Regions from separate parts of the Homo sapiens genome. Here region 2 is linked to region 1. A link means that fine-mapping ties the variant in region 1 to the expression of a gene that starts in the linked region. Tissue or cell type: whole blood. Region 1 holds a variant in brackets; the other region holds the start of a gene. All regions are shown on one strand. Distances are between the middles of the regions. Region 1 has its middle 22 kb from the start of ZNF883. Region 2 holds the start of ZNF883 (zinc finger protein 883).

Region 1 (5,391 bases):
AGAAACAAAACTGAATTTAAAAACCTTCACCCTCAAAATTTATATCCAGCAAAAAGTATTATTCATGAATGACTGTGAAATAATCACATTTTTCAGATAAAAGAAAACTAAAACAATGTATACCCAGAGAACTCTATGGTTCTTCAAGTTGAAAGGAAATCATAGTAGATGGAACCTCAGAAAGCAATGATGAGTATCAGAAAAGGTAAATATGTTGATAAATATAAAAGACTGGTTTTTGTTTTTAAATTCTTTAAAATATTTCAGATTATTTATAACAAAACTTATTATCTTATATGGAATGTAAGGTATTAAATGCAATACATATGACAAGTTTACATAATGAAAGGAGGGCACACCTATCTTATAGCAAGTTTAAAATAAATTTCATGTGATATGGTACAATATTAATTTCAAGTAGACTGTGAAAGCCAAGGATGTATAAAGCAATCTATAGAGAAACCACTAAGGAGTAATGCAAAGAGGTATAGCCAAAACACAACAAATAAATTAAAATAAACCTCTACAAATATTCAAAAGTTCCTGATGGAAGTATGAAGAGAGATACGGAGGAACAAAATCTGAGGGGACAAACAATACAAATAATAAGATGTTAGAGCTAAATCCAACCCTAACCATAATTACATTAAAAGTTAATGGACTAAACATTTCAATTCAAAGACAAAATTTTCACAATGGCTAAGAAAGTGAGACCCAATCTCTACAACATCCAGACTTTAGAAACCACAGATATGTTAAAAGTAAATGAATTGAAAAAGATATACCATAGAAATAGTAAGCATAAGATGTCTGAAATGTCTATATTCATATCAGACAGAACAGAATCCTTGATAATTAGTATGAGCAGAGATAAAAAGGAACACTTTAAAAATATAAAGGGATCAACTCAACAGAAAGACATAACATTCATAAGTGTCTACGCACCTAAACAGAGCTCCAAAGTACATGAAGCAGATATTGGAAGAATTAAAGGGAGACACTAACAATTCTACAATCATAATTGGAGATTTTAATATCCCTCTTTAAGAAATTGATAGAACAGTGAGAAAAATCAGTAAGGACAATGATTATCTGAAGAACGCTATCAGCAACCTTGATCTTGACCTAATTGATGTTTATAGAACCTGCAACTGCAGAATATACCTTTTTTTCCAAGTGCTCAGGGCATGTGCACTAAGATAGGAAATACATTGGGGCACAAGACAAGTCTCAATATATTTAAAATAATTGTAATCATACAGAGTATGTTATCTGACCACAATAAAATTGTGTTTGAGTTCCCTGGAGGCAGGTGTTGAAAAGGAGTTTGTCTTACTACTTTTTGTGTTGCTGTAAAAGAATGTCTGAGGCTGGGTATATATAAAGAAAAGAACTGCTTATAAAGAGAAGTTTATTTAGCTCATGGTTCTGCTGGCTGAGAAGTTCCAGGACATGGCCCTGGCTTCTGGCAAGTGCTTTTGTGCTGTGTCACAACATGGCAGAGAAGGTCAAAGGAGAAGTGCATACATGAAAAGGGGAAAACCTGAGGGGTGTCCTAAGGAGAAGTGCATACATGAAAAGGGGAAAACCTGAGGGGTGTCCTGGCTTTAAAACAACCCACTCTCATGGGAACTAATTCATTGCTGTGAGACCTAATCCAGTCTCATGAGAGTGAGGACTCACCACTATGAGAACAGCACCAAGCCATTCATGAGGGATCCATCCCCCATAACCCATACAACTACTATTCTAGCCTGTATCTCTCAACACCACAACATTGAGAATCAAATGTCAACATGAATTTTGGTGGGGACAAACTATATCCAAATAATAACAGAGTTGGAGTTATCAGATATTTATTAGAGATCGACACCCATGAAAGGAATGGAGAGAAAGAGGATTGGGCAGAGGAAGAAGTTGAAATTTTATTGCAAGCCTAACGAAGCCTTGCCAACCTGGAGAGGAGCTCTGGAGTAAATGTTTCCCCCAGCTGAGTGTCCTGCCTTGAGCTTTATACCTCCACCTTGCTCATTCACAAGATGTAGGCTGTCTTGCAAAGGGCATGACTTTAGGTAAGGGAGCTCTCTGTAGATGAGGCCCACTGTGAACTAGCTGATAGCTAGAAGTTGTCTTCTGATGGCACTCCTGTCATCTAGGCAACAAGTCCTTCCTTAAACGAGAATCTGGGCATGCAACTCTGTGTCTATTACAGTCCATTCCTTGCTCGGCTCAGATATAATTATCCGTATATGTCTGGGAAGTACTTCCTCCAGGATTTCTGTATGCCTCTATGCCTGAGGAGGAATTAGAAAAGGGAGATTAGTGGGATGAACCACGGCCCCTGCTGCTACACTGATCTCAGGGTCACAATAGGTAACTAACTCATCATCTCCCTTCTTCATTATTCATTCTCAGCTATCAACTCTGCTGACCTGAGACATTGGTCGTTATGCCCTTCTCAGTCCAGAGCTGCTGGGCCAGTGCATTCATATCAAAATTAGACGAGAGATACTAATCACTAGATTTCACATGTGTTTCTCCCTGCCCACATTGTGCGATAGCA[G/A]TCCATTTCCTACCGATATCAGTGTTATTTACCTGTACCAAGAGAGTGACTCCTCCTCTTTCCTCCTGGTCCCTGAACACAAAGAGCTCAAAGTATCCAGGAAGTAGCCATAGTTTATAATTTACTGAGACTAACAATGTGTCCTCTGGTGAAAATGTGCCCCCTTTAGGGACTAGTGCCTCTTACTAGAATTGGCATTGGCAGTGATGGTAAATAGGCTCCACTCCCACTCTCATCTCTTGGTTAGTGGACTGATGTATTCTTCCCAGTGGATGCACACCACCATATAAAGTCTTTGATTCAACGCATACATTGTGCAGGAAAGTTTTTGTAGGGAAAAGAAAGAGAGATCAGATTGTTACTGTGTCTATGTAGAAAAGGAAGACATAAAAAACTTCATTTTAATCTGTACTAAGGAAATTGTTTTGCCTTGAGATGCTGTTAATCTGTAACTTTAGCCCCAACCCTGTGCTCACAGAAACATGTGCTGTATGGAATCAAGGTTTAAGGGATCTAGGGCTGTGCAGGATGTGCCTTGTTAACAAAATGTTTACAGGCAGTATGCTTGGTAAAAGTCATCACCATTCTCCATTCTCAATTAACCAGGAGCACAGTGCACCATGGAAAGCCTCAGGGACCTCTTGGGCTTTCTTGGTCCTTTTTTCTATTGGGTTTTTGATCAATCCCTTTATAATTTTCTGAAGAAATGTGTTTCTTCAATAATAATTTAAAATTTGACTTTGTTTTTGGTTCCACTGTGAATTTAAAATTTGTTTATGTAATCAATTTTTGTTTTCTTGATTTCTCTTGTTTTTGATCTCTTGTGTAGCTTGGAAACTTCCTCCTTTATACCCAGGGATCACTGTCCACTAGGAATTCACTCTCTTATAGGCCTTTTACTTCTCCTTTTCTTCTGTAGTTTTCTTTGCTTAATCTCTGACCCGTTTAAATCATCTTGAGCTTTCCCACATCAGTCTTTGACCTGCTTAAATTCTCTGAAATTAAAAATACCATCTTGTAACCTGCATTCTCATCTTTCTTTCCCTCAACACACAAGCTTTTGAAAACTGATACTATCTTGGTGTTTCTGCTTCCTCAGTTCACATACACACTTCAGTATCATGCAGTAGAGCTTCTGTGTTCATCATTACTCTGAAACAACTTCTATAATACGAAGTCCATCTTGCTGTTATCAAATCCAAGGGATATTTTCTTGTCCTTAACTTAGCAGATTTTTTTGTTGCATCTAACATTTAATCCTCCACTCTTCCTTGAAATATGTCACCATTTGTTCTTTTGACGCCGCCTTCCTTCATCTTCTGCTCCCTCTGTTTCTCCTTTATTTCTTTCATCAGCACCTCTTTCTCTTCTTATCCTTTGCCAGTTGGTATTTTCCAGGGCTTCATCTTTTGTGCCTTGCATTTCCTTGTCTGTGTGGTTTTCCTGATTGATTACATCTCTTGTTTATAATAATCTATAAGAATCGCCTCTTTTAGATGTGTCTTGATCGTATTTGACTAACTGGAGACAATATTTGGATTCTAAATTTGATTGCAGTAAGTAGCATAATAAAATACATTTGTGTTGCAGTAAGTGCACATATGCACACGTCTGCAGCACATAAGATTTGTTGAAGCGAACTAAATATGGCCTGAGAAGGATTCTGTACTTCTGTGTTTGAGTCCTTGTGGATAAACTGTAACCTAGCTTAATAGGCAGACAAGATTGAAAACCTAACTTAGAAGTGTGGGCCTGTAACAATAGCTGAGTCTTGGCCAATCCCAGCAGCCGTACTTCAACCACGCATAGACTGCTAAGTGTTCAAACTGTGTTCAAATAAGGCAAATGCCAACCTGTAACCAATCCAGCTATTTTTGTACCTCACTGCCAGTTTCTGTATGTCCCTTCCCTTTTTTTGTCTGTAAATTTGTTCTGACCATGAGACATCCCTGGAGTCTCTCTGAATCTGCTGTGATTCTGGGGGCTGCTTGATTTGTGAACCATTTACTGCTCAATTAAACTCCTTTTAAATTTAATTCAGCTGTTTTCTTTTAACAGATTTGATATATATTTTTTCCTCATATGCATAATACCATTTTCATGTAATGAAATTTCCATTTAATACCTTTTCCATGTAATACCATTTTCATGTAATGTCTGATTCTTGCCTCCTCTCACCTTATATCTAGCTGGGAGTGGAAGGAAACATGGAACAGAACATCCAACACACCATGATCATCCCGGAGTTTTTGGACAGTAAGAATTACTTTCATTGTTTAAAGTAAGGTAGACATCATACACTAGTGGAGTAACATTTAAAAATTCACCAGAATGCATTTGTTTATTTCCAATTTTTTATGTGGTAAAATACACATAACATAGAATTTACTATCTTCATCATTTTTAACAGTACAGTTCAGTGTTACTAAATGTATTCATAATGTACAACCATCACCATTCTCCATCTCCATTACTCTGTTCCTCTTATAAAACTGAAACTCTATACCCATTAAAAAATAACTCCTCATCCTCCCTACCCTCCTGCTCCTGGAAACAACCATTCTACTTTCTGTCTTTATGCTTTTGCCTAATCTAAGTGGTATATTTTGAATGTGTGCCTCAAAATTCATGTGTTGGAATTTTGGTCCCTGGGTAGAGGTGTTGGGAGATGGAGCCTTTAAGAGGTGATTAGGTTGTTAAGAGGAATTAATGCCACTCTCCCGGGACTGGGTTAATTCTTGCTGAAGTGAGCAAGTTCTCACTCTTACAGGACTGAATTACTAACCACTAAAGCCAATTGTTATGGAGCAAGACCTCCCCTTGTGATT
Region 2 (5,391 bases), 22 kb after region 1:
ACCCCATCTCTACTAAAAATACAAAAATTAGCCGGGTGTGGTGGCGTGCACCTGTAATCCCAGCTACTCAGGTGGCTGAGGCAGGAGAATCGCTTCAAACCAGGAGGTGGATGTTGCAGTGAACTGAGATCATCACGCCACTGCACTCCAGCCTGGGCGACAGAGCAAGACTCCATCAAAAAACCAAAACCAAAAAAAAAAAAACAAAAAAAACAAAAACCCTCCTGCGCAGCAAGAAACAACAAAATAAAAAGATAAAAAAGCAACCAACAGAATTTATTTTTTGGAGAAAATATTTTCAGACCATATATCTGATAAGAGGTTAATATCCAGAGAGTTAATATCTGCCTGACAAAGGAATTCCTATGCATCAATGGCAAAAAACAAATAACCCAATTAAAATTGGGTGAAGCATCTGCATAGTCATTTTTCCAAAGAAGACATACAAATAGCCAACAGGTATATGAACAAGTGCTCAGTATCACTAGTAATCAGGGAAATGCAAATCAAAACCACAATGAGTTATCACCATACTTCTGTTAAAATAGCTATTATAAAAATAAATACATAACAGATGATGTAGAGGAAACAAACCCTGTGTACTATTAGTAGGAATGTAAATTGGTCCAGCCACTATGGAAATCAATATAAATGTACCTCTAAATATAGAATTACCCTTTGATCCAGCAATCTCACTTTTGGGTATATATCCGGAGGAATGGAAATCTGGATCTCAAAGAGATATCTGCACTTCCACGTTTATTGCAGCAGTATTCACAGTAGCCAAGATATGGAAACAACCTAAATATCTATTGGTGGACAAGTAAAGAAAATGTGGTATATACATATAATGGAATATTATTCAGCCTTATTAACAATGAAATCCTGTCATTTATGACACCATGGATGAAACTGGAGGATATTATGCTAAGTGAAAGAAGTTAGGCACAGAAAGACAAATATTGCATGATCTCACTTATATGTGGAATCAAAAATAGGGAAATACATAGAAACAGAAAGTAAAATGGTGAAGGGGCTGGTGAGGGAGAAATAGGCAGGTTTTGGTCAAAGAGTACAAAGTTTCAGTATTTATTTATACACAATAAATAAGATCTGGATGTCTTCTTACCATAAAGAGCCTATGATTCACAATAGTGTATTATATACTTAAAAATAAGTAAAGAGGGTAGATCTCACATTAAGTGTTCTTACCACAAAAGGTGGGGGAAGCCCAAAGGGGTGGAAACTTTTGGAAGTGATAGATGAATTTATGGGATTGATGGCATGATGGCTTAATGGTTTCACAGGTATATATACTTACCTCCAAACACATCAAGTTGTGTATATTAACTGTGTACAGTTATATCAATCATAGCTCAATAAAGCAATTTTTTAAAGTATGTATAGTTTTATACTTGAGAATATCTAATTATACAGAATTTGTATATATATGCATAGAAATTACATATTTAAATATATAATAGGGAGTATCTTGGAGTGAACTTTTATCTGACTAATTTTGTTCTTTTTCCTTACCTCTATTCTCTGTTATCTACAATCTGTCTATCTATCTATATTCGTTTGTTTAAGAAAAAAGTTAGATATACATATTCCCTCTTCATTATATTCGTTTTTCGGACGTTTTTGTCAAGAACAGATGTGGAGGAGTGAACAGATTACTCTACAAGGATGTTCATCAGTATACTATTTTTGGTAGCACTGAAGGGATCATAACCTAAGTTCCTAACAGGAAGAAAAAAGCTAGAAAAAAATCTACCCCAAAAGTATGACCTCATTCTTGGATGGAATCTCTCTGGTGCTTGCTCGCTGTCTCTCTCTCTGCCCCCTGTCTCTGCCCGCCCCGCCCCCCCGCCACCGTCCCCTCAACACACACTCATAACAAAGAAGCTAGCTATAAATCAGAGATTTACTTTTAGAATGCTAAAAAATATTAATCACTGCGTTAATAAATATTTCTGCAATGAATCCATCTGGGTAGTTTGGTTTTTTATCTGTTGAATAAAGAGTTATTTATAAATCATCTATTAATGTAGTGAATAGGTATTACTTTTGTGTCTGGGGTGTTGTTAACGCAAACTTTGCATCTCTTTGGATTTACAGTTGTTTATAGCAAAAGAAAAAATCTTTTCCTTTTTTCTTCTTTTCATGTAAACAACGATGGAAACGACGCACGTTCGCAACCCGCAAAGCATTAGAAAGACACCGGTGAAAGACGCAGCTCAAGAGGGCGCTTTGCAGAAGATGCTGGGAAATGTAGTTCCTGGCGGCCGCGTGCGCAGGCGTACTTCCTGGCTTGGGAACCACATCGCCCGACCGTGCTCTTTATTTTTCGGTGGAGCAGGTGAGCTTTTTCTTTCCCGACCCTTGCACTCGTGTGGGAGGTGGGGAGAGAGGTCCCCTTCAAACACAACCATTCGGGCGGGTCGGGAGAGGCCTGAGAATGCATTGGCCGGGCCCGGGGGCGGAGGAAAGCCGATTAGGTCAGGCTGGGTATTTGGTTCACGTTGCAGTGGAGGGGTGGTGGTGACCTGGGCCAGCATCCCGCTTCAGGGTGAGGAGGAGGCAAAGCCGTGTCTGCTCATCCCAGCCTTAACAGTCAGGGGCTTGGGTTCTCTTCTGGGTTGGAGAGTCATGAGAACAGAGCTCAGAGCTTTTGGGCCTTGCTTTGACTGTGATGGGGGGCAGTTTATCTGGGGAGGGGCAACCACCCCAGACCTTGGTGGTAGGTAGACCTGGGAATTGCAAGAAAACCGTGATATACGTATTTAGTGCCAACTAGAATTTAGGTTTCCCGACATCCAGTTCTTGCTCTTTCCTCAGAAACTCACCTCCTCTCTAGAGATAGCTTGTTTCGTTTTACTGGTAAATTTCTGAAGTCTCTTCTATAAAGAACTGTGGAATTGATTCCCTACACTCTGCGGGCGACGAAGAGCAATTGTTTGTTCTTTGAGATGGCATTTGTGAATGCACTTCGAAAAATTGTATATGCTTTACAAGTATTGTTAACAAACAAAGAGGGAGCTGGTGCACTCGGTGCCACCCATCATGGGAGGATAAAGTTAGCCCTGTTTCTGGTTTGTCAGATTGGACCAGTGACCAGAGAGAGGAATGTAAGTGGCCTTTCACTTTGTACTCTGCAGGGAAAGAATCTGTTCCTAGATTCATTCTGACATTTTTACAGAGGGTGTGGGTTATATCCAGGTAGTCAGACAGGCTTCTCATAAAGACAGTCCTGATTTCTCAGGGCCCCTTTCCTTTTTCAGCTCTGCTTTCTCAGGTCTCTACTTACTTATATAAGATGGCATCAAGAAGAAGGACCTGACCACTGGCCCCTGACTACATGGTCTTTGGTGAGCAAAACTTTTCAAGGCATTTGTACCTTAAGCTGGGTTTAATTTCTAAAGTTCCATCTTGCAGTGTGGAAAAATCATATGCAATTAAACGTCCCTTGATAATCTCTTTTATTGCTCATTATTTGCTCTCAATTTTTTTTTTTTTTTTTTTTTGAGACAAGGTCTCGTCCAGTTGCCCAGGCTGGAGTGCAGTGCACGATCTTGGCTCACTGCAACCTCTGCCTCCTGGGTTCAAGCGATTCTTCTGCCTCAGCCTCCTGAGTAGCTGGAATTACAGGCGTGCACCACCACGCCCGGCTAATTTTTGTATTTTTAGTAGAGATGGGGTTTCACCATGTTGGGCATCCTGGTCTCAAACTCCTGACCTCGTGATCTGCCCACCTCAGCCTCCCAAAGTGCTGGGATTACAGGTGTGAGTCACCGTGCCCGGCCTAATTTTTCTTTATAACTGACAAATAAAAATTTTATATATTCATCATGTGTAACATGTTGTTTTGAAATATGTATACGTAGTAGAATGGCTAAATCAAGCTAATGAACATGCATCACCTCACGTACTTTTCATTTTTTGTGGTGAGAGCACTTAAACTGCTCTCATAGCAATTTTCAAGAATACATTGTTATGAACAATAGTTCATAACGTGTATGCACATGTAATGTGTATACAACCATGCAATAATATACATGTGTAAATGTACCCCGACTATGTTCTTTAAACATTAAAATAACTCAGCATAGCAAGATGCTCACTTACGAGAGGGCTGTAAGAAGTGAGACTGAGGAAACAGGAGATTCTCCCATCTCACTCTTACCTTTAGATAACATACTTTCTTGAGCCTGTTGGGCAGATTTGTACAAATAAAATATACATGTGTGTCTGTAACGCAGCTCTGCTGTATTTTTTATTTCCTGAAATATCACCTCTGTCCAGAGGGAGGGAAAATTTTCTTTCTTTCACTCACTGAATAAATATTCATTGAGCACCTACTTTTTGCCAGCTAATGTTCTAAGCATTGGGATATAACAGTGAATAACACAAAGTTTCTGCCTATGTGGAACTGACAGTCTTGGATGGGCACACAGACAATAATGTAAACACAGATGTTCCTCAACTGAGCATGAGGTTACATTCCAGTAAATGTGTAAGTTGAAAATATTAATTCAAAAATGTACTAATTCACCTAACCTACTGAACATCATTCATAGTGATGAATAGAGGAAACTATACCAGAGTAATGGGGCTAGGGAAGGCATAGGACAGCTGTTATTTAATATAGGGGAGTAAGAGAAGGCTTCACTGGTAGATGACATTATAGAAAATGAGAATATGGGCCGGGCGTGATGGCTCATGCCTGTAATCCCAGCACTTTGGGAGGCTGAGGCAGGCAGATCACGAGGTCAAGAGATTGAGACCATCCTGTCCAACATGGTGAAACCCTGTCTCTACTAAAAATACAAAAATTAGCTGGGCGTGGCGGCATACGCCTGTAGTCCCAGCTACTCGGGAGGCTGAGGCAGGAGAATCGCTTGAACCTGGGAGGTGGAGATTGCACTGGGCCGAGATCACGCCACTGCATTCCAGCCTGGGCTACAGAACAAGACTCTGTCTCAAAAAAAAAAAAAGGAATATGAGCCTTGTAGATACTTGGGGAGGGGAGGGGGATTAGGGAGATTAAGTTCCTCAGCAGAAGCAACAGCAAATGCAAAGCCTCAAGGTGCAGATGTGCTTAACCTTTGTGGGAGCATCAGGAAGGCCACGTGGCCAGAGAGGGGTGAGTGATAGCAGCACAGTAGGAGTTGAGATGAGAGAGGTAAGGCGTGCAGACCACACAGCACACAGGCTAGTATGGCCACAGCCAGTTTGGCTTTTATGCTGAATGAGAAGAGAAAACGTAGGAGGTGATGGTGTTCGGTGTTATTGTTTATTCAGCTCTATTAAGATTTACATATAATTTACCAATTTTCATAGGGTTTTGAATAGAGAAGTGACATAACTTGACTTAGTTTAAAGGAACAA

What was found. PIP is the estimated chance that this variant, and not a neighbour inherited with it, causes the effect.
Region 2: ZNF883 starts here. The variant in region 1 is the best candidate, but not a certain one, in a credible set for the expression of ZNF883 in whole blood (TOPMed, PIP 0.73).

Annotation. Positions count from the first base shown.
Region 1 is chr9:113,031,113-113,036,503 of GRCh38, reverse strand. No RefSeq gene overlaps it. Among named protein-coding and RNA genes, the nearest start is that of ZNF883, 22 kb to the right of the region's middle. The variant G/A (reference allele first, on the strand shown) is at 2,564.
Region 2 is chr9:113,009,121-113,014,511 of GRCh38, reverse strand. ZNF883 (zinc finger protein 883) reads left to right here and starts at 2,320. Exons shown (of 5, transcript NM_001101338.2): 1 at 2,320-2,362; 2 at 3,285-3,371.